Linked DNA regions of Homo sapiens: all the other regions are linked to region 1. The links come from fine-mapping of genetic effects on gene expression. A gene starts in region 1. Each other region holds a variant in brackets. All regions are shown on one strand. Distances are from middle to middle. Region 1 holds the start of FXYD6 (FXYD domain containing ion transport regulator 6). Region 2 has its middle 13 kb from the start of DSCAML1. Region 3 holds the start of FXYD6-AS1 (FXYD6 antisense RNA 1).

Region 1 (10,338 bases):
TTTATTCTTCTGATGTGTGGGTACGTGTCAGGTGTGTGTTACTGGGCTGCAAGTGGCAGGTCAAGCACTTTTAGAGGAGAAGGACTTGTGCTGAATTTCTGCTTTCTCAGGATGAAAGCCTGTCCTCCCCAGCTGTTCCAACCCACGTACATCAGTTAGGCTTGTATTGGCTGTATGGAACAGAAAACCAGCTACAGTCACTTTATGTAATAGGAGTTGAATTTGCTCACATAACAAGGAATCTGGGATGAAGCCATTCAGATGTTGTTGACGGCTCTTACAGCTTCTTGTCCTGCCATCCTTACTCAAATACTTATTTTCTTCATGGTTGCAAAATGGCTGCTTCATCTCCAGGCATCACATCCATGTTTCTGACAAAGAAGAAGAATGAGGAGGAGGAAGACAGGAAAGAACAAAGGGCGGAGGGCAAAAGAAACATACCACTGTATTTTTCTTGGAGCAATGCTGTTCTAATCTCCTTGGCCAGAACTGGGTCATATGGACACCCAGAGTTGCAAAGGAGTCTGAGAAAATGAGTAGTTTGAGCATACTGCTGCTCAGTTAGAAAAAATGTTCTGACAGAAAGGAAAAAGAAGAGAACCGAAGTTGGCTAGGGACCGAGCAGTGTCTGCCACCCTATCCCGACAGCTCTGTGAGTAGTCAGGGAATACCTGCTTTTCATCCCCCAGGTCAGTGCGATGGTTACCTGCTCCTCCTCTGGAGGCAGTCTGGCCTGGGAGGTCCCCAGGACTCACCATTCAGGAGAAGGCCTTCATTTGAAATGATCACAGCCCTGTGAGGCTCACTATCCATCTCTCCTCTGGCTGTGGCCTCGAGCACCAACTACTTCCTCTCTTCATCTTGGCAAGAGAAAGCAAAGCTAATGAATTTCACAAGTGTGGTCTAGGCACAGGGTATCAGCACTCAGGGAACCAATTCTGAAGACTCTCTGAAGACTTACGGCTAAGACCTTTGGTTAAGGCAGGAGGTTGCTGGCTGGAGATCAAAATGAATGTGGAGAAGTTGGTTGGAGCAAGACCAGGCAGAGTCCTTCAAGTCAACAACTACAATTCACTTAAATTCAACAAGTTATAAGTGGGTCACCACACATGATAGTGGGGTCTATAAGTGGAGTGAGAGGCCAGGTCTGACCTTAAGGAGTTCTCATTCTATTAGGGCAGCAGACACATGCAAGTAAACATAGCAAAGTTCAGGCTATGATAAGTGCAATTATAGACGTAGAGACACAATGCTGTTAATTACAGCATGGATAAGACAGCTTTCATTTTTAATAAGGTAATATTTGAATTTAACTTTGCAGCATAGGTAGAATTCTTGTAAGTAGAGAAAATAGGCAGAGGATGTAGAGGCAGAGGATGTTTCAAGCAGAGAAAACTATGTAAACAAAGATTTGGGGGTAGGAATCAGGCAGCGTATGTGGATAACTGTGCACGGCTCTTTTGGTCTGGGACACGACATTTACAAGGATTGGAGTGATGAGGGTGATGGGGGGAAATAGGGCAGGGAATGGGTCACGAGATGAAGCAGGAGAGGCAGGTGGGTGTCAGGTTGTAAAGGCTGAATGTCGTGTTAAGAATTTTGACTTTAACTCGTAGAAAATACGGAGCCATTGAAGTTTTGAATCGCATTTGTATTGGGGAAGATAACTCTACCTAGAGGTAGGGGGACTGTGGCAGAGTCACCAGTGAGAATCTGATGCCAGAGACCTGACCTAGAACAGGAGTGGTGGGCAGGAAAGGAGGCACTGGGGGAGAGGTCTGAGCGTGGCATGTGTTCTGCAGGGTAACTGGATTGGGGGCAGTGCCATTCATGAATTCAAAGAAGACATGAGAGGGAACGGCTTCAAGCCGTGAGAGGATGGATAGGGAGTGGACTGGGAGGATGGATTGGGAGTGGGCGGTGCTGACTCCCTGGGATTACTTGCCTGGGTCTCCTGGGGAGAGGACCGGGCTGGATATTGTGGACTCATCAAGCCTAAGCGGGTGGTAAAACCCTGGTTGTGGATTTAGATTGTCTAGCAACTGCATAAGATGACCAAGGACTCAACACAGCTGCTTGAGGGAGAAGTTGGAGGAGTTTGACAAAGAAAGGTTGGAGAGAGAGGAAGGGACCCAGGATCAAGGAGTGGTTTGGAAGTGAGCAGAGCTGTTTCAGCCAAGGAGCTAGGAAACGATTCTGTCCTAGGGGTTGGGGGTTTGGCATTTGGCTGAGTGGGGAGGACACACATTCACACCTGTGCAAAGCCAAGTGGGTATGCATGGACACAAAGTAGCAGTCAGTGGGCAAGATCGGCTCCCTTCTGCAGCCCCACCCCAGGATGAAGTGGCACCCCACTAGAAGGGATGCCTGCTAGGAGGGGTGAGGGTCTCTTCTAAGACTCCTGGTCTCTCCCCTTTAACTTCCCCTTTAGGCCCTCCATGTCCGGTGTGACCAGGACACAGGAGGTCACTCTGTGACCTGTCCGTGGCTGTGTGACCAGGGCACTGACATGCGGAAGGGCTATTTTGCTGCAATACAAGGGGACCAGGGCAAGTCCTCTCCAGATGGGATTTTAGCTGCACATTTGTGAGTTACTTAGCCCAGAGCAAGCTTCAAAGCATAGAGCAGTCCCTGATGCTCCCAGCAGTTATGCTGTCCTCTCCAGCTCCAGGTCTTCCCATGGTTCCAGTTCTGGCGGGTGGGGAGTATTTCAGGAATGGTTTCCACCCTTTCTTACCCTACTTTCTCCATGGCTGCGCAGCCCTGCCCTGGATCTTTTTTTGTTCTTTGGGCTTGTAAAGAAGCAGGATTCTTTAGTGGGGATCAGGCTTATTTCTCAGCTTCATGTTAGTGCTGCCCCCACACAGCCCCCTGAACCCTGACTTGCAGGGTCCACCAGGAACATCCCAACCCAACCTCTCACCAATTCTTGCTCAGAACAGTTTTCATGATGCCCATCAGTGCTTCCCAGGATAAAAGCTGGAATCACCAGGAATTGTTGGGCCAGTCCCACCCTGGCTCCTTTCACACCATGCCCCTTCTGCCTCAGGGCCTTTGCACATACTGCTTCTGTTCCAGAGGCAGAATCATCTTCCCACCCTGACATCCCAATTCTTGGCTCCTTTACCTCATCTTCTTAACATCTCCTGACCTTTCTCAAATGCTATATCTTCAGGGCTCTGAACTGTGTTTTAATTACACGTTTATTCATGGGAACATTTGCTAAATCTCTATCTCACCCAGGGACCACATCTTTCCTCTCCACAGTATATCCTCAGATCTTGGCCCAGGTCTCAGTGAAGAGTAGCTCCTCCTGTCCATACGTGGTTGAAAGAATGGAACAGCTGGCGACCTCTTTTTATGAATGCCCACATTTTTCACAGGGGGTAGATGTGTTTATTTTCCTGCTAGAAGGGAGATGTGACTCACCCCAGAACAAGCTTGCGTGCTGCTTTGTAGCTGTAACACCCCAAATTCTTCCAGCAGTACCCTTGGATGGAACGTGATGAAGCACTATTTGAGAGTTAAGCCATGGCGGTTTCTCATGCACATTTAGTTCCTGTTATCCCTCTGCAGCCTGGGCTGGTCAGCATTAGGTAGGGGGACCTGGGAAGTCACTGGGCCAAACACTTCAGAACTCTCTGGCTGGAAATGGGGTTGAACCAGAAGGTGGCTTGGCTTTGGAGTTCTGAACTATCCTTTCCCAAATAGGCTTGCAAAGCCTGGGCTTGACGTGTCATCACTAGTAGGTGCTCTAAAAAGCACAGAGAGATGGCCAAAAGGCAGGATTCAAGGGCATTTGGAGGGATGAATGTACCTGCCTAAGGACATGGGCCTAGAAAGGGATGTGGTTTTAAATCTGCCACCTAGAATACATGAAAAGGGAAAACGACAGTTGGAATGCTGTCCTCAGTTTATAGAGGAAAAGACAGGAACGGCAAAGGGTTAGGCACGCAAATAGGCAAGATTTGAGTCTGGCTTTGGAGAAGGAGCTTTAGCATTCACAGGAACCCCAGGGAGTTCAGGACTGGGCCAGAGTGGCATCCATTCAGCCAGGTCCCATGATTAAGGGGCCAGAACTATCCCCTGAGGGGAGGCTTTTTGGGTGCTCTTTCTCAGTAGCTATTTATGGTTCCCCTACTGGTTCCAAAGTCTTCTTGAGTTCATGTATATTTCCTGCCTTGGGGTTTTGAGACCTGACCTTTTATTAAAATAATTAGATCATCTAGGGCAGAGCTGGAAGAGACCTCAGGATCATCTAGTCCATCTCCCTATTTTCCCAAATGAGAAAACAGGCCCAGAACTGAGGGCAGCAGAGGCAGGGCTAGGTTTCTTCCTAGCAGTACCCATCATCCCCGGCTTGGGGTTTGTAAGGAACTCTCCGTGGCCCTACCTAGGCTTGGACAATCACAGCCTTTCTCAGTAGCTCCTCCCTCCACCCGGCTCGGCCATACACACACCTTGACTGAGGCTGGACAGCCTCCATCTCAGCATGGCTCCTGGCTACTGACACTTGTGCCTGGCCTCTGCCCCTTCCTACAAGCTCTGCCCCTAATAGTAAGAGCCAATTTCTTGAGCACTCACTATGAGCTAAGCCTCCCATGGGGTCAGTCTCTAATCACCATTTTCCCACGTGAGGAAATAGACTCAGGAGCTGAGTGCAGAGATATGCTCCAAGTCGCGTCACAGGCAGGGTTGCCGAGCCAGGATTTATTTACATCTTCACATTCAAAGTTCGTCATCATGAATTTTGACTCTTGGGGACTGGGCTGAGGACGGGGTGGTACTGCTCCTGGCAGGGCCAGAGGTGGATGGGGCTTGAAAAGGGGGTTCAAGGCAGCAGATCTATGGTTCAGGTAAGGACCATCCCCCCAGCTCCCCACCTGGCTCTAGCTGAAAATGACAACTACAACTGGAGCTGGCTCCTGCGCCCACGACACAGCCATTCATGCTTTTGGTGCACATTCCCCTTAATTACCAAGGCTCCCAATTAACGTGGGCTGCTGTGTCTGGTGCTGGGTTATTTTCTCCTATTTTTCCGTTCCTCGGGGTTTACTATTGCAGAGAGACACCAGGTCTGTCATTGTGCCTGTCTTGCTCCCTTCCCACCCTAACCAGAGGGAAACCGAAAAGCAACAGCTGATGGCAAATCCGCTCCGGCGCTTGCACGCCTCCTCGGCGGCAGTCTCCTGTTGCTTCTCGGAGCTTGACTGCCCTTTGGAAAAATCTCTCCGCCCCTCGAGAGGAGAGAGGAGCAGAGGACGCGCGCGAGCACAGAGCGGGAGGACGGACAGGGAGAGGAGGAGAGGGGGTCTGCGCGCGGCCGCTACCCAGAAGCCAGCGGACGGCAGCACGGAGTGGGCTGTCCCCGAGCCCAGCCCCGAGCGAGCCCCCCCCCCGCCCCCGCAGGACGCGCCTCCCAGCCAGCCCGACTCCTAGGAGGAGGGGAGGCGGGAAAGCAGCTCAAGCCTCACCCACCGCCCTGCCCCCAGCCCCGCCACTCCCAGGCTCCTCGGGACTCGGCGGGTCCTCCTGGGAGTCTCGGAGGGGACCGGCTGTGCAGGTAGGCGGCTGGGGAGGTGGGCAAAGTTGGCTCCTTTTTCCGAGGAGGGGCGAGGCTCGGTGGGGACCGATCTCTGGAGCGCCGGGAGCGCCGGGTTTTGTGTGTTCAGTGGGTGTGTGCGGTCCTCCGCGGTCAGCTGCGCCGCGGTCCCCGCCTGGGCAGCGGGAAACCGGGCTGGGGATGTAAACAAGGAGATCGGCGTCGGAAGAGAGAGGAGCCTCTAGGGGAGGCAGGCTGTGGCGCTGGGGGTGACGCTGGTGGCTGGGAATTGCTCTCGGTGCTGCCTTGAGCTTGGGGTCAGGGTTTTCAGGAGAAGGGGAAAGGGCTGCGCCCACCCTTTATCCATGAGGAGTTTTCCCTTTGTTACTTGGAAGCTGTGGACACTTGGTGGAGCGTGGGGAATTACGGACGAGGGCGTGTGGCTGGGTGTGAGTGTGGACTTATGAGCGACACAAAATGGAACTTGCTGGTTTGGTGCTTGGGGAAGGTGGGGCTGGGCAGTGGGCACAGGATGGGGGCGCAGGGAAAGAAGGATTCTAGCGCTCGGGGATTCATGAGAGTGCATCATTTTTTCCCTCCTTCTTGTCTTATCCATCCAATCCTGTTTCCTTTCCGGGGGGCCCTGGGGTCCGCCATTGCCCCCTTTCCCCAGCAGGGCTGGCCCTGGCAGAGCCTCCCCTATTGTGTCTCCCGGGCTTCCGTGGAGAGTTGGGTGTGCAGCCTGGAGCTCCCAGCGCTGGCTTCTGGCTCTTACAAGTGGTGGCTGGTAGAGGAGGCACCCGAGGGTGGGAGCTGGGAGCAGCCTCGCTGGAAACATGGGTCTGCCGCGTCACCTGCTGCAAGCCTGCACGCTCGCGGGACCGTGGCTACTGGAGGCTTCTCCCCACCAGTGTGCTCTCTGCCACTACTTCCTTTGTCTCTGTGGCTTCGTGCTGTCTGGCTGGGCTAAGATTTCCAGCTTTGAAGATGGATCAGTGGGCATCTCAGGCCCTCTCTGAAAGGAGCCCCCTTTGGGGATCCAGCCACCCTCATATTATGGATGTGTATGTCTACGTCCGCAACTTAGCCTTTTGCACGTGACTTGCCTGGTCGTTGCCATGGAAACTCCTCCATTTCTCAGCCTCCCTCTTTCTCCTGCCCATTCCTCACCTCCATATCTCCTCCCCTCCCCCCAGTATGGTTGCCTAGATACTGGTTATCCCTGGCTAGGAGACCTAGATATCTGGCTCCTACACCCAATTGCAGTGGCCCCTTACTCACACCACCCACTTCACACACACTGCACATCACCAACACCACAAACACATACAGACATATACCACACTACGCAATCAACACACCCTCACACTCACACCACACATACATATACATCATACCTATACACACATACACACCAAACACACCGCATATATACCGCACCACCACACACCAGCTACAATGCTACACTGACACCCTACATGCGCACTGTGCATGCACACACACACACACAGTACATCTAAATAAGTCTCAGGCTGGGCTGAGGCAGGGGAGAGAGAGGGCAGTTTCCTTCCTTATCCAGCCACCTCCCTAGGGGTGTGGAGGGGAAGAGATGGAGGCTCAGGAAGCCCAGAAGGAAAACCCTAACATCTCCCTGGGAACCCTGCAGAGGAAGGTGGAGGGAAAGGCACTGCCAGATTCCCTCAAAAGAGGAGCCCCTTCCCTAAACCTGGAAGGGAAGGTTGGATAAAGAGTGGGCGCAGCCCTTTTCCCTCCTCCTCAAAGCCCCAGTCCGGAGCTCCAGGTGTTAACGAGAGCCATTCCCAGGTGCTGGGCTCCAGAAGCTGGGCACTGACCAGAATTTCAATCTCTCCACTGCCGCTGCTCTTTTCCCTGACCCAGAGAAAGCCTGAGGCTCTGGGAGTCATCCTCACCAGCAGAGGATCAGGCCAGCTCTGGGACCATCGGAGGCTCTGAGCCCTAACAAAGGAGAGAAGGAAAAGTGGTTACTGTCCCAGGAAAGCCAAGGAGGCCAGGCCAGGGAGGCAGGAAGGGGAGGGAAACCAGAAAGAGGGAAGGAGAGGGGCCACAGGAGTCAAGAAAGCGAAAGTTAGGGCTACCCGCCGTTGCCTGGGGTTCAGGCCACCCTCTCTTCCTGGCACGTTTTCCTGCTTCCCCCCTGGCTCCTCCAAACAGATCTGTGCATCTAGGAGAGGAAGCGGGTGTGCAAAGGGCTCTAGGCTTGCCAGGGTTCTCCCAAGACGTGTGGCTTCTATGGTTGACAGACGGTAGGCGCCTGGGGGAAGCGTTTCCTTCCTGGCTTCCATCGGATCTTCAGACTGACCTGAGGACCGATTTCATTCAATCATTCAAAGAACTGTTTTAAGTGTCTACTGTGTATTAATTGCTGGGGACATGAAGGTGAGGAGGGAGACACAATCCCTGACATCGGAATCCTAGGTTTCTCAGAGCCGGAAGAGGCCTTGAGGGAGCATCCAGTGGGAACACAGTGGGGGAAACTGAGGCTCAGCAGTCACGTGGCCAGTAGTCGCTGAGGCCTTCTAACTCCTCGGCCAGGATTTTGGCCTTCACACTGCCTGTCCTGCAACCCTTGCTTTCTTTTCTCAGTCACCATCAGAGATGGTGGGTTGATGGAAACCTATGGAGGGAGAGCCTTTGGTCGGCTGGTGACTGGGACGCCCTTCCAAAGTGAGGGTCCCTTAGTGGGCGGGTACAACCGAGGAGCCTGCTTCACTATGTTTTCTTGGAAGGCGAGGCTGGAAGCTGTGGCAAGGAGATGGGGGAGAAAGGGCAGTTTCCTAGACCCTGGAAATTTCCCGACAGCCTCGGGGGAGTCCACCCACCGAAATCTCCCCTAAATAAGAGCACCTCCTCTCTTCCTCCCAACCTTGTTGGACTTAGTCGGCCGCCATCTGGATGGCAGACTGTGCCAGGCAGCCCCCCAATATTCACCTTCGAACAAATCACCTTCTGAGCACCCTAAGGGAAGCAAACCAGTCAAGAAAGGCACAGCCCCAAGGAGGCAGGGAGCCTGCTGTGGAAAGGCCGGGTTCTAGCCCCAGCTCTCCCCCTGAGCTTCCGTGCTACCGAAAGGCAAATGCGTTCATTGCACAAATATCCCTTTGGATGCAAACTGGGCTTCTGGTGAAATCCAGAAATGGCTTGGACTGCTCTTCAGCAACTGAAAGCCTTTCGGATTTTAGACCTTTGTTTCCGCATCTGTCAATAGTGGGGTTTAGACTCATGATTTCCAAGGCATGTCTTCCTCTAAATTTGTGTGGATTATACAATCTTGAAAGAGATCCCTTTTCTCTCCAGGTACCAAATAGTACTCATTATTTCATAATACAGGGCTGCAGCTGAGCTGAGCTGAGCAGGAAGGGGCTGGGCTCTGGTTACCCTGGAGAAAGTTTCCTTTTCACCCAGTGTGGCAGAAGGTGCCCTAGAAGCTGAAACCAAGTTTTTTTCTTTAGGGCTGAGGGAGCCACCTCCTCCTGGATGCTGTGGTCTACCTGGCCTTTTCTACCAGGCTGCACACTGGAGGCGGGCGGCGGTTGGGGGGGGTTCTTTAAAGAGTTGTTCTCTGGAAGAGACAACTGGAGAGGACTGGGCTGTCATTTTGGAGGTCCATGAAATCTTCTGCAGGGAGAACCCCTGGCCAGCTGGAGAGTTGCAACGAGAGGGGCCGGTCGGGAACACAGTGCTCTGACACCGTCCCTGATGAGAGGCAGGACATCTCCGGCCGAAACAAAAGCATGGAACCAATTTGGCAGCATCATCTCTGCTCCAGAATCCGGGGAGGGAGAGGTCCCGACCTGGGAAGGGATGAAGCCAGCTTGTAGGCTGCGCAGGAACATGTTTGTTACAAAGATGTGGGAGGGAGCACACAGCCTGGGAAAGGGGCTGGGCCCCCACGGACCAGGCTGGGGCCATGGGAATGGGGCTGCCCCAGCTCAGAATATCTGATGTGGGCAGAGAGGGCCAAGGATGAAGGGGTGTAGTTAGAATAACAGTGACCCCCACGCAGCTGGAGGACAAAGCCAGGCCCACACTGAGAGACCAGAGGCTAAGGTTTCAAACTCCCTCGTTCATCCTTTTAATAAATGTTCCCCTCATATGTCAGGCAGGCCCTGTGGGCTTCTGAGGTTTCTCCTTTGCTGGAGCCCTCCTGCTCAGGTAGATCAATGGGCTTGTCCTGTTCCTTCCTCTCCCCTACTGTCCACCTCATGTCCACATCCTACCAGGAGGCCCTGCGACTTTCTTCCTCCATAGGAAGAGCCCCTCCATGCAATCACGGGTGCACTTACACTCTCACACACGTTCCCTTCCTCACACATATATAATCTCCCACACCCGACAGGGAGGCAGTGGCTCACACATTCTCACACGCCCTGTCACCTCTCCCGAAGAGCTGCAGTCTCTCAGACCATGGTGATGGCCTGTGAACGTCCACCCTCTCAGCCCATTCCATTTTACCCACTGATGTTACAGCTCAGGTCCAGGTTTGCCACTCCTCTGCTCAAAAACCTCCCCAGGCTCACCAGTGCCTATTAATAAGCACAGGTACATGGTGTAGGCACTCCAGGCTCAGCGTGACCTGGCTGCAGCCACCTCTGCAGGCACCTTCTCCAGATGGTCATCCGAAGCCTGGTACTGTCTCACCCTCTGCCTGAGCTCAAGCCGTTGCTGGAATGTGCCGAGTAGAGGGTGGCAGTCTTTGTAGACACACAAACTTGGATTCTAAACTGCATTCTGATGCTTCCTGGATTTCTTCACTT
Region 2 (10,338 bases), 67 kb after region 1:
TGTTCTGAGCTGGGGAAGCAATTTGTGGCCCCGGAAGCCCTGCCTGCAGCTCAGTGCAGACCACACCGTGGAAGGTGGAAAATTGGTTTCACTGCCAGCTCTGCCCTTGGCTTGCTGTGTGACCTTGGGAAGGCCCTGGTCTGTCTCTGGACTTGGCTTTGGAAAAAACAGACACAAGACAAAAGTCCCAAGCTTCAGCTCACACGTCAAGGAGCTGTGACTTTTCAGGGGAAGGGGTAAGGGGAGAGCTGTGGCTGACCCCCTTGTTCCCTCCCGCCCCTTGGATAGCTGTTCTTAGAGAAAAGCTGGATACACCCCCACAGCCCCTGCAAATACACACTTGGCTTCCTCCCGGCAGTGAACACAGAGGCGCCCAGCAAGTGATGAAGGCAGACAAAAAGACACACTTGACAAAGCAAAGGAGATGAGGCTGGCTTGGCCCCGAGCCAGGAGCATGCTGAATTCTCTTGTGGTCTTTGTTTCCTGAATGGCCTATCAATCAGTAACCGAGTGCGTGCCAAACCCAGCCCACACGGGAACCCGGTGTCCTCGGCTCTCCAGTAAATACTACTTCAGGTCTCATGTCCGAGGACCATATGCTCCCAACACAGCTAATAAAATCATCCAGGAGTAGCCTGGAGGCCGCAGACACCCGCCCCAGGGGGCAGGAGGGGGACGAGCCAGGCTGGGCCTCCGCTGTTCAAGAGTGTTCCTGACCTGCTCTCTCTAGCACCCTGGGCACCTGCCAGGGGACCCTGAATCCCCTGAATTCTGAGCTTTGCCTTCACATCTGAGGCCCCACTGCTTATAAGCTACATGAGGGAGGGATTGCATCTGAAAGTTCACCCACCGATCCCAGTGCCTCACCCCCCTTTGGGCACTTAGTGCACCCTCCATACATGTTTACTGAGTGCACACGTGACTGGTTGAGTAGAGGAATGAATGAGTGATTGATTACCAACCAGGTGGACCACCCCTGTCCCTGCTCCATGCCTCCAGGAGCAAGGAAGTTGTGGGGTCAGGGTAGGCAGCTGGGGTGGTCAGAGGTGTGCGTGATCCCTTCTTCCTTGGCCTCACAGCTAAGGTCACAGGCTTTGGAATCAGCAGACCTGGATTTGAGCCCTGGCTTAGCCAATTATGAACTAAGTTTCATGCGCATCCGTGTGAAGAGAACCACCAAACAGGCTTTGTGTGAGCAACATGGCTGTTTATTTCACCTGGGTGCAGGCGGGCTGAGTCCAAAAAGAGAGTCAGCGAAGGGAGATAGGGGTGGGGCCGTTTTATAGGATTTGGGAAGATAATGGAAAATTACAGTCAAAGGGGGTTGTTCTCTGGTGGGCAGGGAAGGGGGGTCACAAGGTGCTCAGTGGGGGAGCTTCTGAGCCAGGAGAAGGAAATTCACAGGGTTAATCACTCAGTTAAGGTGGGGCAGAAACAAATCACAATGGTGGAATGTCATCAGTTAAGGCGGGGCAGGGCCTTTTCACTTCTTTTGTGATTCTTCAGTTACTTCAAGCCATCTGGGCGTATAGGTGCAAGTCACAGGGGATGCGATGGCTTGGCTTGGGCTCAGAGGCCTGACATTCCTGCCTTCATATATTAATAAGAAAAATAAAACAAAATAGTGTTGAAGTGTTGGGGCGGTGAAAATTTTGGGGGAGTGGTATGGAGACAGAATGGACGATGTTTCTCCGGGCTGCTTCAAGCGGGATTAGGGGTGGCGTGGGAACCTAGAGTGGGAGAGATTAAGCTGAAGGGAGGTCTTGTGGTAAGGGGTGATATTGTGGGGTTGTTAGAAGAAACATTTGTCATGTAGAATGATTGGTGATGGCCTGGATACGGTTTTGTATGAATTGAAAAACTAAATGGAATAAGAGAAGGAGAAAAACAGGTATAAAAGGTCTAAGAATTGGGAGGACCTAGGACATTTAATTAGAGAGTGCCTATGGAGATTCAGCATAGTCCTGCCAGCAAAGATTATTTATTTACTTCAAGAGTTAAGAGTGGCAATTTGGAGATAGCACGAGGAGATATCAGCTGTGATGGCTTGGAGAAACAGTATAAACCGGCAGTGTAAACAAGAGCAGGGCATGTATGAGTAGTTGAGAACGGTGAATAGGAGTATGACTAGACAGAAGATAGTAGGGATGACAAGTTTTTTGGGGCACAGTCGAAGTTGGTCTGGTGTCTGGAATGAGACTGGGGCCTAATAAAAAGGAGCATCTATACAGGAGGTTAAATGGGCTGTACCTTGTAGCATTCTGAGGACATGTCTGACTTCTGAGAAGGGAAAGTGGTAAAAGTATTGTCCAGTCCTTTTTAAGTTGGTGGCTGAGCTTGGTGAGGTGTGTTTTTAATAGACCATTAGTCTGTCACTGAATACTAAGAGCCTGAAAAAATGCTTGGCTGATTTGACTAATAAAGGCTGGTCTGTTATCAGACTGTATAGAGGTGGGAAGGCTAAACTGAGGAATTATGTCTGACAGAAGGGAAGAAATGACTGTGGTGGCCTTCTCAGACCTTGTAGGAAAGGCCTCTAAAAGTATTAAAGCAGTGGCAGCCGCTGCACGCAGACATGAGGGCTAGGCTAAAACAGTAAGGTCAAGTTGTTTGCACAGAAAGGCTACAGTGTGCGGTCCTGGCTCTTGTGTAAGAATTTTGACTGCACTAACCATGCCTAGGAAGGAAAGGAGTTGTTGTTTTGTAAAGGATTGAGGTTTGGGAGATTAGTCGGACACGATCAGCAGGAAGAGCACGTGTGTTTTTACGAGAATTATGCCGAGATAGGTAACAGATGAGGATGAAATTTGGGCTTGACTGAAGTAATGGGGGCTGTCTGTGAAGCCTTGTGGCAGTACAGCCCAGGTAATTTGCTGAGCCTGATGGGTGTCAGGGTCAGTCCAAGTGAAGCGAAGAGAGGCTGGGATGACGGGTGCAAAGGAATAGTAAAGAAAGCACGTTTGAGATCCAGAACAGAATAATGGATTGTGGAGGGAGGTATTGCGGATAGGAGAGTATATGGGTTTGGCACCATGGGGTGGATAGGCAAAACAATTTGGTTGATAAGGCATAGATCCTGAACTAACTTGTAAGGCTTGTCTGGTTTTAGGACAGGTAAAATGGGGGAATTGTAAGGAGAGTTTATAGGCTTTAAAAGGCCATGCTGTAGCAGGCGAGTGATAACAGGCATTAATCCTTTCAAAGCTTGCTGTGGGATGGGATATTGGCATTGAGTGGGGTAAGGGTGATTAGGTTTTAATGAGATGGTAAGGGGTGCATGATTGGTCGCCAAGGAGGGAGTAGAGGTCTCTTGTGGGTTAAGGTGGGGGAATACAAGAGGAGGACGCAAAGGAGGCTTTGGATTGGGAAGAAGGGCAGCAATGAGATGCAGCTGTAATCCAGGAATAGTCAGGGAAGCAGATAATTTGGTTAAAATATCTCGGCCTAATAAGGGAACTGGGCAGGTGGAGATAACTAAAAAAGAGTGCATAAAAGAGTGTTGTCTAAGTTGGCACCAGAGTTGGGGAGTTTTAAGAGGTTTAGAAGTCTGGCTGTCAATACGCACAGCAGTTATGGAGGCAAGGGAAACAGGCCTTTGAAAAGAAGGTAATGTGGAGTGGGTAGCCTCCGTATTGATTAAGAAGGGGATGGACTTACACTCCACTGTGAGAGTTACTTAAAGCTCGGCATCCGCGATGGTCTACGGGGCTTCCAAGGCAATCAGGCAGCCTCAGTCTTCAGCTGCTAAGCCGAGAAGGAGTCAGTCAGGGAGCCTTGGGCCAGAGTTCCAGGGGCTCTGGGAGTGGCTGCCAGGTGAGTTGAACAGTCCGATTTCCAGTGGGGTCCCGCGCAGATGGGACACGGCTTAGGAGGAATCCTGGGCTGCAGGCATTCCTTGGCCTGGTGTCCAGATTTCTAGCACTTGTAGTAAGCTCCTGGGGGAGGAGGTTCTGGAGGAACGCCTGGCCGCTGCAGTTCAGGCGTTTGGAAGTTCTTGTGTGCTGGAGATGTAGCTGGGGTTTGTCTCACAGTGGAGGTAAGGAATTGCAACTTTTTTTATTATTGTACACCTTGAAGGTGAGGTTAATTAAGTCCTGTTGTGGGGTTTGAGGGCCAGATTCTAATTTTTGGAGTTTTATTTAATGTCGGGAGCAGATTGGGTAATAAAATGTATATTGAGAATAAGATGGCCTTTTGACCTTTTAGGGTCTAGGGCTGTAAAGCTTCTCAGGGTTGCTGCCGAACGAGCCATGAACTCGGCTGGGGTTTTATATTTGATGAAAAAGAGCCTAAACGCTATCTGATTTGGGATAAAGAAAAAGGAGCATTAACCTTGACTATGCCTTTAGCTCCAGCCACCTTTTTAAGAGTAAATTGCTGGGCAGGTGGGGGAGGGCTAGTCACAGAACGAAACTGTAAGTCAGACCGGGTGTGAGGAGGAGAGG[C/T]GATAAAAAGATTACAGGGTGGAGGAGCGGAGGCTGAGGAAGAAATGGGACCTAGCTTGGTCTGGCGAGGAGGGGAGAGGTCAGATGGGTCTGTAGAAAAGGAAGATTAGAAAGACTCAGCGACGCTTGGGGTTGGGACTGAGGGGACAGGCGGGAGGGAAAGAAGGAAGATTTGGGACGAGTTGCACTGGGCACAGAGACTAGGAAGGGACTGATGTGTAAAAGAATGCGTGGACGTCAGGCACCTCAGATCATTTGCCCATTTTACGACAAGAATTATTTAGCTCTTGTAGGATGGAAAAATTGAAAGAGCTGTTTTCCGGCTATTTGGAACTACTGTCGAGTTTGTATTGGGGTCAAGCGGCATTGCAGAAGAAAATAAGACACTTTGATTTTAGGTCAGGTGAGAGTTGAAGAGGTTTTAAGTTCTTAAGGATACAGGCTAAGGGAGAAGAAGGAGGAATGGAAGGTGGAAGCTTGCCCATAGTGAAGGAGGCAAGCCTAGAGAAAAGAGTAGAGATACGGAGAAGGGGGTGGGGGTTTCTTGCCCTCCAGAAAAGCAGAGAAAGGGTTGGGGCACGGAAATAAGGGATTGGGGCACAGAGATAAGAGGTCGGGGTGCGGAAATAAGGGATTGGGACACAGAGATAAGAGGTCGGGGTGCGGAAATAAGGGATTGGGGGTTCTTGCCCCCTAGAAAAGCGGGACTTGCCACTAAGGGTGAAGGAGAAGGGGTTGAGGGGTACTTGCCCCTCCCCCAGAGGGCGCTGGAGTTTTGAGTCCACGGAGTTTTGGGTCCACGGAGTTTGGGTCCACGGAGTTTTGGGTCCACGTGTCTCCTTTGTCTCTATCAGAAAATGAAAGGAATTGAAATTAAGAGAAGGGAGAGATTGAAGTGTGGCGCCAAGATTGAAATGTGAATATGTATGTATGTGAATGTGTGTATGTGTGTGCGAATGTGTAAGTGAGTGTGTGAATGTGTGTGAGTGTGAATGTGTGTGAAAATATTTGAATATGTGTGAGTGTGGGAATGTGTGTATGTGAATGTGTGTATGAGTGTGTGTGAATGTGTGAGTGTGTGAATGTGTGTATGTGAATATGCGTGTGTGTGAATGTGTGAATGTGTGTGTGAGTGTGTGGGTGTGTGTGTGTAAGAGTATGTGAATGTGTAAGTGAGTGTGAGTGTGTATGTGACTGTGTGAGTTTGTGTGTGTTGTGCGTTGCTAGTTGAGCTGGAACTGGGGAGGAGCAGAGCAACCCAGGAGGGTTGCGTGGGTGGACCTAGCATCTGGAGCGCTGCGCGGCGATTCAGCCTCCTCAGCTGAGAATCAGAGGTCTGTTTTGGAGGACACCATTGGTCCCCTCCAGTAGTTCTTAGAGGCTGGCAAGGACACAGGCTGGGGCAGGGAGTGAGCCCAGCCTCCGGCTTCACTGCGAGACATGACTGGGGTGAAGGGCAGGACCTGTGTAGTGGAGAATTTGAGTGGCCGCCGTCTATGTTGTACTGCACAGCAGCCTGCGGCGCCACCATCCTGTCCTGTGGCACTAGGGGGAGGCAGACACCAGGTTCCCAGTGCGGAGGCCTGGAGCTTCCTTCCGCGGAGGACCGCAGAGACACATCCAGTAGTGGGCCAGGGAGGCGGGTTGTCCTCTCCAGCCATCAGAGCCACGCCCAAGGAGTCAGGCACAGCGGGGAGGAGGGCTCCCCTCCCTTCCCACAGCTCCCACCCTTCCCACACTGCACTTTCCAGGAGTGCAGACGCGGCAGCTGGCCTCCCAGGACCTGCCCCACCCTGGAGGTCTGCACTGAGCCCCTTCGCCAAATGAGGCAAGACTTCTCCTGAGCCTGGGGTCTCAGGGCAAACTCCTGAGGTCGCCTCTCCTAAATCTGAGGCATTCCCAACGGATCTGGAAGATTCATTCTCTCTGGATGGATTTTTCCTCCTCTCAAGCTTCGCAGTGGAAATGATATGAAGCAGGGGCGGGGCAGTGACGGAGCTGCTAGAGCAGGGTAGACAGGCGTGGGCGTGAGCTTGGCTCGGTCACTGACCACCTGGGCAGCCCTGGGGAAGTCCTTTAGTGTCTCGGAGCCTCAGTTTTCTCATCTGTGAGATGGGGTTTGTGATATCCAACTCATTAAAGAGATTGAACGAGATCATGTGTGTAAATGAGATATGTACGCCACAAAGTGCTGCGAACATGTAAAGTGGGTGAGGGATGAAGCAGTGTTCACCAAGGCTTCTGCTGGGCTGGGTGATTGCGTGTTTTTCAGCCATTTATTATTCAGCAAATTTTTGTTGACTATCAAGTATGTGCCAGACACTGTATTAGTGTTTTTGACAAGCTTAAGTGGATAGTGTTTATGAAACTACAGAACATAAACCTTCTAGTTTATCTTCTAGTTCAGGATTTCCCAAATGCCAGCCCCAAGACCTATGCTAAGCTTCTTACATCCAAATACTGGGAAACAGAAAATACAGATCCCGGATTCTGTAGTCTGGGATCTCTCTCTCCTTCACCTCACCTGTGCCTGTGTGCATGTGTAGTTGTGTGGTTTCGGAGCCACTGAGACCCAGAGATGGCAAATGCTCTCAGGGGATAGCATGTCGCATGCCAGGGGCTTCGGGCATGCGCCTATTATCTTTTCCAGAGGGGCAGGGACAGCCCAGCCATGGTCTCAGGACTCCTCCTAAAGGTTTGACCCATAGGAATGTGTCGGCAGATTGCCCAGAATATAGAGTCCGAAGGCCTTCTAATTCTATATTTTGTCACTTAATGGCTCTGTCATTTAGTGCCTGCATAATTTTTAGCAAGTCACTCTCTTTCTGAAGCCTCAATTTCCTCATCTGTAACATGCGGATATTGATGTCTGTCTTGCTGTGGTATCTTCATGTGAGCATACTTTGAAAACTGCAGGCCGGGCGCGGTAGCTCACGCCTGTAATCGCACCACTTTGGGAAGCCTAGGCGGGCGGATCACGAGGTCAGGAGTTCAGGACCAGCCTGGCCTACAAAGTGAAACCCCATCTCTACTAAAAATGCAAAAATTAGCTGGGTGTGGTGGCATGCACCTGTAGTCCCAGCTACTCGGGAGGCTGAGGTGGGAGAATCATTTGAACCCAGGAGGTGGAGGTTGCAGTGAGCCGAGACCACGCCTTTGCACTCTAGCCTGGGTGAAAACTGCAAAGCTCCAATTTTTAACTCCGACGAAAGCCAGAACCAGACTGAGTTTTCAAAGGAGAAACCCTTCAGGCTGAATTTTCTTCCACTTCTTCCAAGTCCAGCTGTATCTAATATTGAAAGATAATCTCCATGGAGGAGCCCCCATCCCGCCCAAAGGTTTCTCATACTCAGTCTTTGGGCGACACCTGCTGGCCATGGCAGGTACTGTGACCTTCTCTAGCTAAACAACTCTGCGGAGAAAACTTGCCCATCTCCTTAGACATTCACAGCCACGCTGCAGGGTCGGTGTTCTGTTCCCACTTCCACAGACCAAAAAGGTGAGACTTGGTCCTCCCAGCTCATGAGAAGTGCGGTGAATCTCTGACTCCAGGTTCTTGGCTCCATCTCATCCCTTCTTGCTCTTAGGCTGGGCGGAGTGGGGAGTCATTTCCTCCCAGGCAGAGGAGATCTCCCACCCCCCAAATCATTCTGAAGTAGGTACTGGGATTTGGGGCAAGGCCAGGGTTGGAGCCTAGGACAGGCCTGGTCAAGAAAGACTCATCCTTGTGTCAACAACCCCACCAGGCAGACCACCACATCCAGTTCCCCATCTGCAGAGCAACTAGACTGATGGCAGGGGCTTCAGCGATAAAAATTCACTCTGAGGAGGCAGAGAGATGCCATTTGGTCAGGCTGTGTGGTGAGGAGCTGGGGACAGGCTACCCGCTGAGCCTGTTGCCTCTGTGCCCACTGTGTGGGGAAGTGGCTAGCCTGAAATCTGGCGTGTGGCTTGGGGGAAGCGGGTGCCCCGGCCAAGGAACTTCTCAGTCAGGAGGCAAAAAGTATTGTGATTGAGAAAGAGGATTTGGCCTCATCCTTGAGAGATGCACACAAAATGATCAATGGATGAAATTATGTAACACAAGAAATTTGCTTCAGAAAAATTCATGGTGATGGGAGGGGAGCATAGATGAAACAAAAAACTGGCCATGAGTCAACTCTTGTAGCATCTGGGAAATGAGTGCATAATAATTCGTTATACTGTTCTCCCCACTTTTGTATATTCTTGAAATTTTCCATGTTCAAACTTTAAAAAATGTAACAGCAGTAACACTACCACCACCACCAAAGTCAATACATAGAATGATGAGTTTGAAATTAGACTGCCTTGAGCATCTGACGCTGCGTGAATTGGACAACTTAGTTAATTTCTCTATGTCTCAGTTTCACTGTCTGTAAAATGGGGATGATAATAATCATACCAGTCTTATAGGGTTGTTTGGAGATTATGCATCTGGAGTAATTAGCATAGTGCTGGGCCCACAGCAAGTGCTCAATTATAATCATTGTTATTAGTAGGAGTCCAGGACTCTGATTATGATTTGCCAAAAGAAGAAGCTACTTTGGCTGATGCAGACAAACAATTAGCCCGCCAGTTCAGCTCAGAGTTTGGACCGATGAGTCTTTGAGGACACAGCTCTGAACTGCCATGTGCCAGATGTGTGGGTGTCTCAGATGGGTAGACACACCATAGAGTCAGGCTTTCCTGAGCCCCTGCAGGGAGGCCTTTTCCCTGCCTCTCTGCATATCCTTCCCATTGCTCAAGCCCAACTCACATCCTACCTTGGTTTTTACTGACCACTCCTTTCTCTGAGCTTAAGCAGCTCTCTTCACAGACTTATCGAACCCCTTGCCCTAGGTGAGACTGTAAAGATCATCCAACCCAGCCACATCATCATAGCTTCATTCGACAAACAGTCATCAAAGACCTGCCTTGGGTACTGAGGATGGAGTGGTGAACAAGGTGGGCAAGAGTCTGAAGGCAACAGGGCCTAGGAGGGAGGTAAACACCACTTAGCTGAGCGCAGGCCAGGCGGTCAGGAGCCCTGGACCTAAGCCCTGACTCTGCCATGTGACCTGGGACGCCCTTCACCTGCCAGCCACTGTTTCCTAGGCACTTGCAGGAGATGCTCCCCAGGTCCCTTCACACTCTGACCTGCTGACTCTGAGCATGTAGGCTTCCCTGTGTTGCTCTTTAAACATCTTCTACTCCACTGGAATGCAAGCTTCCTGAGGGCAGGGACTCTGTGCTAGACTTTCCAGGGATCGGGGAACTCCTTGCACAGGGGCTGGGCACAGAGTTGCCAAAAGAATGAGTAAACCAACAAAATGTACTTCCTTTAGGCCAGGTGTGGACCAGAAACAGTGAAAGAACAGAGTTTTTAACCAGGAGAAGTGGGAAATGGATCCCCCAAAACCTCATACTGTAGCACTTGGAGATTGACAATGCCCACCAGCGTGTTAAAGCCTGCAGTAAAAAACAAAAACAAAAACAACTCCCACAAAAACCTATTTACCTTTGATTATTCCACTGTTTTCCAAACCTATTTGACCATAGATCAGTTTTTGCACCTTACCTATTACCTTCTCATGAAACACTTGTGAAATGCTATGTTAGATCTTTTTCTGTTTTCTGCTGGATTTATCAAAAATAAGGTCAAGTTTGGTAAAGATGCTGGGTTTCAATGTCATTGTGGCCTGAAATGGGAACCTTATTGCTGCATTCTTAGCTGAGCTCTGCCACCCTCACTGGGGCTGGGCTAGGACCTTAGATGACATTCTGAGTCACCCATTGTGTAAGTAAGTGCCATTTGACCCAGGCAACACCCCATTTCCCAACTTTCACCAAATGATGAATGGGATCATGTTTTCTCTCAAATAATCCACATCAG
Region 3 (10,338 bases), 41 kb after region 1:
CTGGTGTGTGACCCCCAAATGGGCATTCTCTTGGATTCTTGTCTCGGAGGCAGAACGTGTGTGTTGGGACGTAGGGCTGGAAGTTTGAGGACTGCCAGGTAGACTCTGGGGCAAAGGAGAGGTCAAAACATTGAAGGTCAGCCCATCCTGTCTCTTCTGATCTATGTGGGGGACGGGGAGTGGACAAGAAAGTACTGGAACCTTTTCTGGAGGCCCTTGGGACAGTTGAGCTTGGGAGAAGGGAAGCAGAGGGCTTCCTGGCCTCTCTAGATGCCCAGGTCCTCTCTACAGGACCTGCGACACAGTCCCCACTTGTCACCTGTTCATGAGGCTCTTTGAGCTGAATAGACACTTGGACCTTCTTTCTACTCCCACATAGAGGTCATACCCCATTAGTTTACTATAATAGCCAAGGGTAGCTTGGACCCCAGAAGTCCAAAGCGTGTGGCAGGACACACCCAAGCCCCCATGTGGCCCTAGCCTCCCCTTCCCATGAGGGCTGACATTGAAGGGTGCCTGTAAGTTCCCTCTGAGTCTGACCCTTCAGTCCAGACCTTTCCCTCTGTCCCATGCATCCCACAGCAGAGTGAGCTCCAGCCCCTCAGGGCACTGGGAGGAGCCTGACTGCAGGCAGCTGTGCCCCAGTGAGGAGCAGAACGATGCTCTCTGGGTCTGCCCTGGAGATCTCTGATGGGGCTGTGTGTCTCTTTCTCCTGCAGGGCCCCAGGAGATGAGGAAGCCCAGGTGGAGAACCTCATCACCGCCAATGGTAACTGTCCGTGACCACCTGCCCAGGTGGAAAAGAGGGAACAGAGAGACCCCTCTGTGGCTCAGGAAGGGACTGTTGCCAGGTGCATGGCCAGCCAGACATGCTCCCGCAGTGCCAGGAGAGTGGGTCTCCAGGGCCTCTGCAGCATTGCCCCCTCACTCCACCAAACAGGCTACTACTAGTGTCACCTGCTATTTACAGAGCATCTGCTTGTGCCAGGCACAGACCCCATATCATTTAATGGGCACACAGCCCTGAAATAGGCATCATTGTCCCCATTTTGTAACCGAGGGACTGAGAGAGGTTACCAGGTTCCTGTAAGCAGCAAGTAGCAGGGCCAGGATTGAACCCAGATCGTTCTGACTCGAAATCCCATGCCCGTCACCTCTTTGCTCCCCCAGAGTCAGGCAGAGACACGGCTGCTGTTGGGGGTGGCCCACGGGGGTGAGGAGTCTATACACTATAATCCATTCTGGTTTTCTTTCCAGCAACAGAGCCCCAGAAAGCAGAGAACTGAAGTGCAGCCATCAGGTGGAAGGTGAGATGCTCAGTGCCTGGATTGGCCCCTGTTGCCATCACCGTCTGCATCAGGGCCTGGACAGGGGTTCAGGCGGGAAGGATGGGGCTAGCTTTTGCAGTGGGCACAGCTTTTATTATGGGCCCTGCCCTGAGGAGCCTTCAGGAGTCTGAAAGGGGCTGTGAGAGAGACCAGGACTAGAAACACCCGAAGTGTCCCACACACATGCATGCCAACACCAGGAAATGGGGCTTCCACACAGCCCACTGGCCGAGTGCATAGGGCGTCATCCCAAGTGCAACATGGGAGAATTAGAGTTAGTGAAATGCTCCTAATCTCAAAGTAGCATAAAGATAATGGCTTTCCGTGGTGACTCAGAAAGTACTTTAGGGCCACTTGTTTTTTTAAACACCTTATTATGAAACTTCCCAACCCTAACCAAAAGTAGAGCAAATAGTATATGATCCTTCCCTCTCCACATTTAAGGGCACTGATTTTAGTATCTATTTCCATTGTTCATCGTAGGGGGCACAGGAGAGTAGTAACTGGCAAATGCTGTACAGTTTTCAGAGTGCCACCACACACACAGACTCACTCGAGTCTGCCAGAAAAAGAGGATGGGACAGGTGGGGTTTAGCCCATTTTATAGGTGAAACCAAGATGAGAGGGAATAGCCCCGTGGAGAGTGACAGCCCGGACTGTGAACTCAGGCCTTTGCGGCTGTGGTTCAGCGCCACTGCTCCCCTCTGTCCTGTGCGTCTCGCTTTATGACATGCCCTGGAATATCCTAAGGGAAAAGGTTTGTGTTTTGTCAGCTCACTTCTGCCTTTTTTTCCCCCCATACAAGTAAGGCATTATAGAAAGGTATATAAGTTTATCTCACATTGTAAGGTAAAAGAGGTTTCTGGATGATGAAGTGCCCGATGCACCAGCTTTGACTGTGCGTAACAATATCGTGTGCCTGTGTAGCATTTAAATTCTTTCCTAAGTGCTTTTGCATCCTCATAGCGGCCCGTGATGGGCAGAGCAGGGCTCATTACTCCCGTCTTCTGGATGGGGCTCTCGAAGGCAAGTGATCACCTAAGTGCGAATGGACGAAGATTCCGATCTAGGAGGCAGGTGCCCTTCCTGGTAGCTTGGTGTTCTGTCTATTTCATCACAGACTGAGAATCTGGGAAGGCTCAGAGGAGGCAGCCTGGAAATGAAATGTCTTTTCATTTTTTTTTTCCCAAACTAGTTCTTTCTCAGAAACCTTTTATCCTAAGGCTCAGGACTGTGAGCAACCACTGGGGAGGTCCTGGGTTTAACAATTTCCTTTCCATGTCTGCCAGGCTCCAGCCCACCTGGGAGAGGCTTCTTCTGAGGTTCACCCCTCCCCTGTGTCTTTGTCTCCTTTCTCTGCGTCTCAGACGAGGCTGTCATACCGGGAATTTCAGTGGGCAGGTGCTCAAGGAAGGGAGAGAAGCAGATAAGGATACCAGAGGCAGCCGAAGTGTTTTTAATTTAAATTATCCTCCTCCTCAGCCTCTGGAACCTGAGGCGGCTGCTTGAACCTTTGGATGCAAATGTCGATGCTTAAGAAAACCGGCCACTTCAGCAACAGCCCTTTCCCCAGGAGAAGCCAAGAACTTGTGTGTCCCCCACCCTATCCCCTCTAACACCATTCCTCCACCTGATGATGCAACTAACACTTGCCTCCCCACTGCAGCCTGCGGTCCTGCCCACCTCCCGTGATGTGTGTGTGTGTGTGTGTGTGTGTGACTGTGTGTGTTTGCTAACTGTGGTCTTTGTGGCTACTTGTTTGTGGATGGTATTGTGTTTGTTAGTGAACTGTGGACTCGCTTTCCCAGGCAGGGGCTGAGCCACATGGCCATCTGCTCCTCCCTGCCCCCGTGGCCCTCCATCACCTTCTGCTCCTAGGAGGCTGCTTGTTGCCCGAGACCAGCCCCCTCCCCTGATTTAGGGATGCGTAGGGTAAGAGCACGGGCAGTGGTCTTCAGTCGTCTTGGGACCTGGGAAGGTTTGCAGCACTTTGTCATCATTCTTCATGGACTCCTTTCACTCCTTTAACAAAAACCTTGCTTCCTTATCCCACCTGATCCCAGTCTGAAGGTCTCTTAGCAACTGGAGATACAAAGCAAGGAGCTGGTGAGCCCAGCGTTGACGTCAGGCAGGCTATGCCCTTCCGTGGTTAATTTCTTCCCAGGGGCTTCCACGAGGAGTCCCCATCTGCCCCGCCCCTTCACAGAGCGCCCGGGGATTCCAGGCCCAGGGCTTCTACTCTGCCCCTGGGGAATGTGTCCCCTGCATATCTTCTCAGCAATAACTCCATGGGCTCTGGGACCCTACCCCTTCCAACCTTCCCTGCTTCTGAGACTTCAATCTACAGCCCAGCTCATCCAGATGCAGACTACAGTCCCTGCAATTGGGTCTCTGGCAGGCAATAGTTGAAGGACTCCTGTTCCGTTGGGGCCAGCACACCGGGATGGATGGAGGGAGAGCAGAGGCCTTTGCTTCTCTGCCTACGTCCCCTTAGATGGGCAGCAGAGGCAACTCCCGCATCCTTTGCTCTGCCTGTCAGTGGTCAGAGCGGTGAGCGAGGTGGGTTGGAGACTCAGCAGGCTCCGTGCAGCCCTTGGGAACAGTGAGAGGTTGAAGGTCATAACGAGAGTGGGAACTCAACCCAGATCCCGCCCCTCCTGTCCTCTGTGTTCCCGCGGAAACCAACCAAACCGTGCGCTGTGACCCATTGCTGTTCTCTGTATCGTGATCTATCCTCAACAACAACAGAAAAAAGGAATAAAATATCCTTTGTTTCCTAGTGGCTCGGAGGTGCTTTCCTTTCTGTGAAAGAACTTGAGTGTTTGTAGGGTCTGTGGAACTTAAAGGGCTAGAGGGAGTCCGTCCATGGTCAGAGGGAAGAGGAAGGACTGGATAGCCACCCAGGCAGGCACAGAGCCCCGTCAGCTGCTGTCACTGTTGCCTCCTCCCCGCTTCTCTTCCCTCCTTTCCTTTTCTTCCTTCACTTTCCTCTCCTCCTGCTCAGCCCTTCGTCCCGCACCTTCCCGCCATTTCTATTCCTCCCTCCCTCTCTCCCGCCTTCCCAGGCCACTGGGCTCAAGCCACATCCCATAGCAGGACCTGTACATTGCACACTGTCTTGGAGCAAAAAAGGGAGTCACAATGGCTTCTCCAAGTACTCAGTGGCCTGGAGTAAAACATCCTAACATTTCTCTTTGGTCAGTTCTGGGGCCACTACCTAAGGACTTGTAAAGAGAGCCAGGGGTGGTGACTCATACCTGTAATTCCAGCAACTTGGGAGCCT[A/G]AAGCAGGAGAATTGCTTGAGGCCAGGAGTTCAAGACCAGCTGGGCAACATGGTGAAATCTTAGCTGGGCATGGTGGCTCGCACCTGTTGTCACAGCTACTCGGCAGGCTGAGGCAGGAGGATTGCTTGAACCCTGGAGTTCCAGGTTGCAGTGAACCGTGATTGCACCACTGCACTCCAGCCTGGGCAACAGAATGAGACCTTGTCTCTAAAAAGAAAAAAGGAAGGAAGGGATCAAGGGAGTGACAGGGTGGGTGACGTGGATTGTGAAATACCCCTCCTCTGTGGAGCCTCCCTGGGCATTAGGTAGAATCGAATCCCTTTTTTTTTTTTTTTTTTTTTTTGAGATGGAGTTTTGCTCTTGTCGCCCAGGCTGGAGTGCAGTGGCGTTATCTTGGCCCACTGCAACCTCTGCCTTCTGAGTTCAAGCGATTCTCCTGCCTCAGCCTCCTGAGCAGCTGAGATTACAGGTGCCTTCCACCATACCCGGCTAATTTTTATATTTTTAGTAGAGACGGGATTTCTTCATGTTGTCCAAGCTGGTCTCGAACTTTTGGCCTCAAGTGATCTGCCTGCCTCAGCCTCCCAAATTGTTGGGATTAGAGGCGTGAGCCACAGCGCCCAGCCGAATCCCTTTCTTGTGCCCCAATCACACTTGTTTGCTGCCTTTATATTCACACTTCATACTTGGCATCCAGACTGTAGAGACCAGGCAGGTAATGCCAATATGTGAATCTGCTGGAGTGACGATGGGGCATGGCACCTGCAGTCACCTACGGTGTCCTCCCAAAGACACTCTGACTCAACTTTCTAAAAACCACTGTTGGCCAAACCAACACAGATGTGGGCAGATTCTGCGTGGAGGTTGCCTGTGTGCAGCTTCTGCCTCTAGTGTTTTGTGTCTTTATTGATACAATTCCTGGAGGGCAAGGACTGTGCCTGCTCTACAGAAGCCTGGAACATCTTAGGGTCTTGAAAAAAGAATCGACCCCTGGAACGTCTTAATATCTTCCATCTTGAAGCCAGCACTTAAGGAGCGGGACCCTCTGGGCCCACCTCCTTCCAGCCCCAACTTCTAAGACCCCAGTGAACCTGGCACCTGAAGCTATAGCAGGAGACAGAAGTCAGTGCTCCTTGTGGTTTCGATGGGCCTGGGAACCACCACCTTCCCTGCCCAGTGGCCACACAGGCCCTGAGTCCGCCTGGATTCCGCAAGTTGTTTAGAACCGAAGAACCGCACAGATCCGCTTGCTCGGTGCCTTCTCTACGTGTGCTCTTGCTTCTGCCTTCGGTCCCCCAGGCCTTTGGAAAGACACAGGCTTATGGTAGAGCTCAAGCTCAACCTGTCAACCCAGTGATCATGGCGATTAAAAACTATCTGGTCACAGCAAGACCTGGTAAATGAGCTTATTGTTCGGGAACACTCGTGATACATCAGGGAATTGACAGGCCTTGCAGAAATTTCATAGCGAGGCCAGGCTGAGATCCCTAGAGGCCCTAGACATGCAAAGCTTTGTGTGTGCCGCCCCCCATACGTTAGTAAAAACAGAACATTATACTTCGACATAGGAATAAGGAAGTCCAATGAGGAGGTTCTAATTTTTCTCATAATAATTATGTTAAGAGTAAGGAATGATGGTCAGCATCTCTAGCACATCATCTACAAATGGTTATCCTTACTTTGCCCGCCTCTAAGCACTCACTTAGTTTTCCTCCTAGTAATCCAGCTATATTCTGAGATTGGTCAGAGATACAATCGTCCTGGTCCAGGTTACACAGCTGGGGGATGGAGGAGCTAGGACTTGACCCCGGGCTGTCTGTCCATAGTGCTTGTCAGCACATGGCCTAGCCTCCTTCAGCAGGCAGATGCTCAGAAGAAGGGACAGTGATCAGATGGCTCCCAAGACTGCACCTGGAGCATGGCTGCCCCTTCAAGACATAAACTAGCTGGACCATGCTCCAAGGAGCCTCCTGTGGGAGTCTAATGGTCTGGAAACAAGACACATGAAGAACAATCGAAGAAATGATGGTCAAAATGGTAATAATTAAAAAAAATGAGCAGCTGAAGTTTATGGAGCACTTACTATGTGCTTGTTTGAGGACTTCACACAGATGAGCTGGATCAGAACTCAGAGTGCTATATATCTCCATGAGGAGGACCAGGAGTGTCCACTCAGCCTCCAGGCATGTGGCACTGGTTTGTAGCTGTGATTTGGTTTAATGAGGCAATGTAGCTTGACTGAATAAGAAGGACAGCTGCCATGCTGTGTCATTTCCCAGAAGGGAATCCCAAGTTCCCTGTCTCAGTAACCTCAGGTGTCCCACACCTTTTGCCTCCCAGTGACTCCCTCCACCCCCCATTCCATTTCGAAGATCTCCATGTCTCTTTGCCTGGAGGTTTTCTGCGTTACTTACCCCTGCTGTAGGAATAGGTCAGTCTGCCTTCTGGGACCCCAGGTGCTGTGGCCCTCCTACCTCTCTGTTTTTTGTTTTTTGTTTTTTTTTTGCAAGATGTAGATTAGAACTTGCCAAATTGTTCTTGGAAGAGAGTCAGAGGCAGAGTACAAGCTGTAGGGAGCGGTGTGAGGGGAGTGCCAGGCGAAGCACACTCCAAGGTCACCGGGCTGTTGGCCCCTTCCTCTGGGAGGAGGGCCTTACCTTGCTTGGAATCATGGGCTTGGCGGGGAGGCTGGGCAAAGCAGGGGTGGGAGAGCACTCCAGCTCTGTCTGGTTCACCCCACCTTGTTCCTGGCTGCTCTGCCTCACCCTGGGCCCAGCGAGAGAAAGGTCAGGTGTGTTTGCCTGAGCCAGGGGAGGAGCTTTGGAAAAACCTGTCTCCAGGCCACAGAGAAGGAATGGCCACCTCTCTCCATTAGTGTGATTTATTGCTGTCACAGCTGAGCTCCAGGGGGGCAGACTCAGCCGGCTCAAGCCAACCAGCTGTTGATCTGATGGGGCCAGCCCAGCCCCGGGCCTGGTTGCACAACAGTGGGGCACCTGCCAAGGCAATGATGGCAGAGCAGGTGATGCTGTGATCGCATGTCCTGAAGGACCTGGATGGCAGGGACTGGAGGGGGTGGGCCCCCCTGCACTATCCAGAAGAACGGTTTCCTACCTCTGAGCTGGGCTTGGAGGCAGTCTGGTAGAGCCTGAGGCTCAGAACATCCCCGAGGTCCCTTCTGCTCTAACAGTGTGAGCTTGGAAAGACCCCAGCCTCTCTGTCAGTTTCCTTTTCTGAATAATCAAGTCCTTCCTAGCTTTGGGGTAAGCTGGGCCTCCTGCTCACTGTGTAACCCTGGAAAAGCCACTTAAGCCTCAGTTTCATCACCTATAAAATAAATGCATCAAGATGTTTTCTGTTATCTCACAGGGTCAAAGTGATACAATGGACATCGAAGCACCGTGACAATTCTCCATGTAGCCATTATGCTATAAATGTTGGCATCACTATCCATTTCCTTGTCTCCTCATTCTCTGATGGCCGGGTTCCTCTTGTCTCTGTTAGACTTGGGTTCATGTTCTGACCTGTTTGCAGACCACCTGCAGTGTCCTCTGTAAAATGGGCATCTCACAGCCTGCCTGGCTGAATTGTTGGGAGGCTCTAAGCAGCTCTTTGGAACCACTGAGACCCTGGAATAGGGTGGAATTGCTGCCAAGTGTGGAGAGTGGGCACCAGGCTCAGTGCAGGTACAAACGTTTAACAGCTTACCCGACCTGAGGCCTCAAGGAGGCCAGGGACTTGGCAATCTGTGCTATAAATGAAGAGAATGGTGACACGGCCACATGCTGGCCATTCAAGCCATGTCAGTGGCATCCGGAAGGTGGTGGAGGGAAGGTAAGAGTAACCAGGGGTGGGCTTGCTCCGCGAGGTCTTCCCGGAGGTGGCGAGCCTCTCCCAGAGGTGAGAGGGAGTTTGGTTACTGGGAGGAGAAAACCAAGAAAAGCTGGAGAGGAATGGGCTCTGTTGTGGTTCAAGCCTGGATGTGAGTTCTGAGAACAGTCAAGAATGCATTTCTCTCCAAGGCATTCACTGTGGGGGAGGTGGGTCAAATGGGTTTGCCCTTGTCACCAGCTGGTGACCTTGACTCTCAGAGTACATTGCCCTTTGGCAGTTCTCAGAACCTCTGTGCACCATGGCTCAGGCCTTCTTGAAGCCAACACTTAAGGAATGGACCCTCTGGGGCCCACCTCCTTCCAGCCCTGCCTTATAAGACCCCAGGGACCTGGCACCTGCAACCATAGCAGGAGGCAGGAGCCAGCGTTCCTCAGGATTCAGGACCTCTGAGTGGGACAAATGGGGCTTGGGAACTGCCACTTTCCCTGCCCAGTGGCCATACGGGTTATGCAGCTGAGGACTGACTTGGGCCTGGGGTCATGGCTTTCTAGGTGCTTCTGGCTTCTGCTTCATTGGAGCCCCTTTCCAGCTGCAAGCCAACACCAGGAGGAACTGATCTGGGGACCTGGAGTTCAAGGCTGTAAACTCCCACAAAGGCCAGAGCTGGCGGAGCTGGAGAACCCCATTCTGGGAAGCTGGTGGTGAGGGCCTCTGCCTTTGATCACCAGGAAAACAGAGGTCAGCTGGATTCCAGCCTATTTCCTCCCTGCCCCACCAACCCAGCAACGACCACCCCAAATGACTGCCCTGAGACTTAGGAGTCAGGAGACAAAAGGGAGGCCTGCCTAGGGGAGACAGGGGAGATGGAGGCCTCGCCACTGAGGGCACGGTCCCATCAGCTGTGACAGTGCTGACGCATCCAGGAGTGGGCACTGCCTCTACCTCCCAACATCTCCCAGAGCTCTGGGTCTTGCAGAGAACAGGAGAGCACAGCTGGATGCTCCTTTGTCTCCATCCTGGAACCATTAGACAAAGGAGGTTTCTTGGTTTTGTGTGGAGAAGAAAGGGAGGCTGGAGATGCAGGGTGAGTTGTGGCCAGCAGGATCATACCAGGGCAGGGTGCTCCCAGAGGCCTGCTTTAGAGATCACCGCAACTGGGGACTGAGCCAAGGGAAGGGATTGCTGTGAGTGTTCTTGTCTCCTGGGGGGCTCAGTTCGGAGTAAGGAAAACACAGCCATCAGTTTTTAGGACCTTCTCTGGCCAAACGCTTGACCTACCTTGCCTCTGTTCCCACAACAATACTGCAAGGTAGGTGTTATTACCCTATTTTACAGGTGGGAGGAGACCCAGAGGGGTGCCCTTGCCCAGGGTCAGGCAGTCCTCAGCAAAGTCTCAGGATGAAAGGGGATTTATGCATGGGTGTGTCTGGCCCTCAGGGTGCCTTGCGTGGTGTCTAGGAGGAGAGACCCTCCTGAACTGAGCTGCTCTCAGGAACATGGGCCACAGGTGGAAGGGCCGCAACCTCTCTGCAGGAGAGCAGGTGTCTCAGAGAGGGGTTCCCTGTCCCCAGTGCTAGCTAGGACCCATGACCTGAGCTAGCTGGGGGAGGACAGGAAGGAAGTCTGAGAAGGACTTAAACATGAGTGAAGCGAGAGGGGTGGGACCTGCTTGACTTAACAAATGCCTGGGCTTCCCCCAAAGAACAAACAGGACAATTTCTGAAAATTGCTGCTGGGCTGGAGAAGGAAGGGGAGGTTAGGGGAGTGGGGGGATGGGGTGCAAGAGGAGGGAGAGAGAACCCCGAGAGGGACTCTGGGGGAGCTGTCAGCAAGGTGAGGGTTGCTGCCTCTGTGAGGGCAAATCGGGTCTTGTGACTCCTCACAGGGCAGGC

Evidence for each region.
Region 2: its variant is fine-mapped to the expression of FXYD6 in whole blood (TOPMed, PIP 0.95).
Region 3: its variant is fine-mapped to the expression of FXYD6 in whole blood (TOPMed, PIP above 0.99).

What each region holds. Positions count from the first base shown.
Region 1 is chr11:117,871,817-117,882,154 of GRCh38, reverse strand. It overlaps FXYD6 (FXYD domain containing ion transport regulator 6), which reads left to right and starts at 5,497. Exons shown (of 8, transcript NM_022003.4): 1 at 5,497-5,563. FXYD6-FXYD2 (FXYD6-FXYD2 readthrough) reads left to right here and starts at 5,497. Exons shown (of 10, transcript NM_001243598.4): 1 at 5,497-5,563.
Region 2 is chr11:117,805,142-117,815,479 of GRCh38, reverse strand. It overlaps a transcript of DSCAML1 not described here. Among named protein-coding and RNA genes, the nearest start is that of DSCAML1, 13 kb to the right of the region's middle. RefSeq lists enhancers at 224-303, 1,093-1,670, 5,905-5,954, 6,005-6,074. The variant C/T (reference allele first, on the strand shown) is at 4,446.
Region 3 is chr11:117,830,750-117,841,087 of GRCh38, reverse strand. FXYD6-FXYD2 (FXYD6-FXYD2 readthrough) reads left to right here. Exons shown (of 10, transcript NM_001243598.4): 5 at 720-769; 6 at 1,258-1,307. FXYD6 (FXYD domain containing ion transport regulator 6) reads left to right here. Exons shown (of 8, transcript NM_022003.4): 6 at 720-769; 7 at 1,258-1,307; 8 at 2,811-4,107. The coding sequence ends at 1,286. It overlaps FXYD6-AS1 (FXYD6 antisense RNA 1), which reads right to left and starts at 7,370. Exons shown (of 3, transcript NR_186291.1): 1 at 7,027-7,370; 2 at 4,586-4,819; 3 at 2,769-3,920. The variant A/G (reference allele first, on the strand shown) is at 4,612.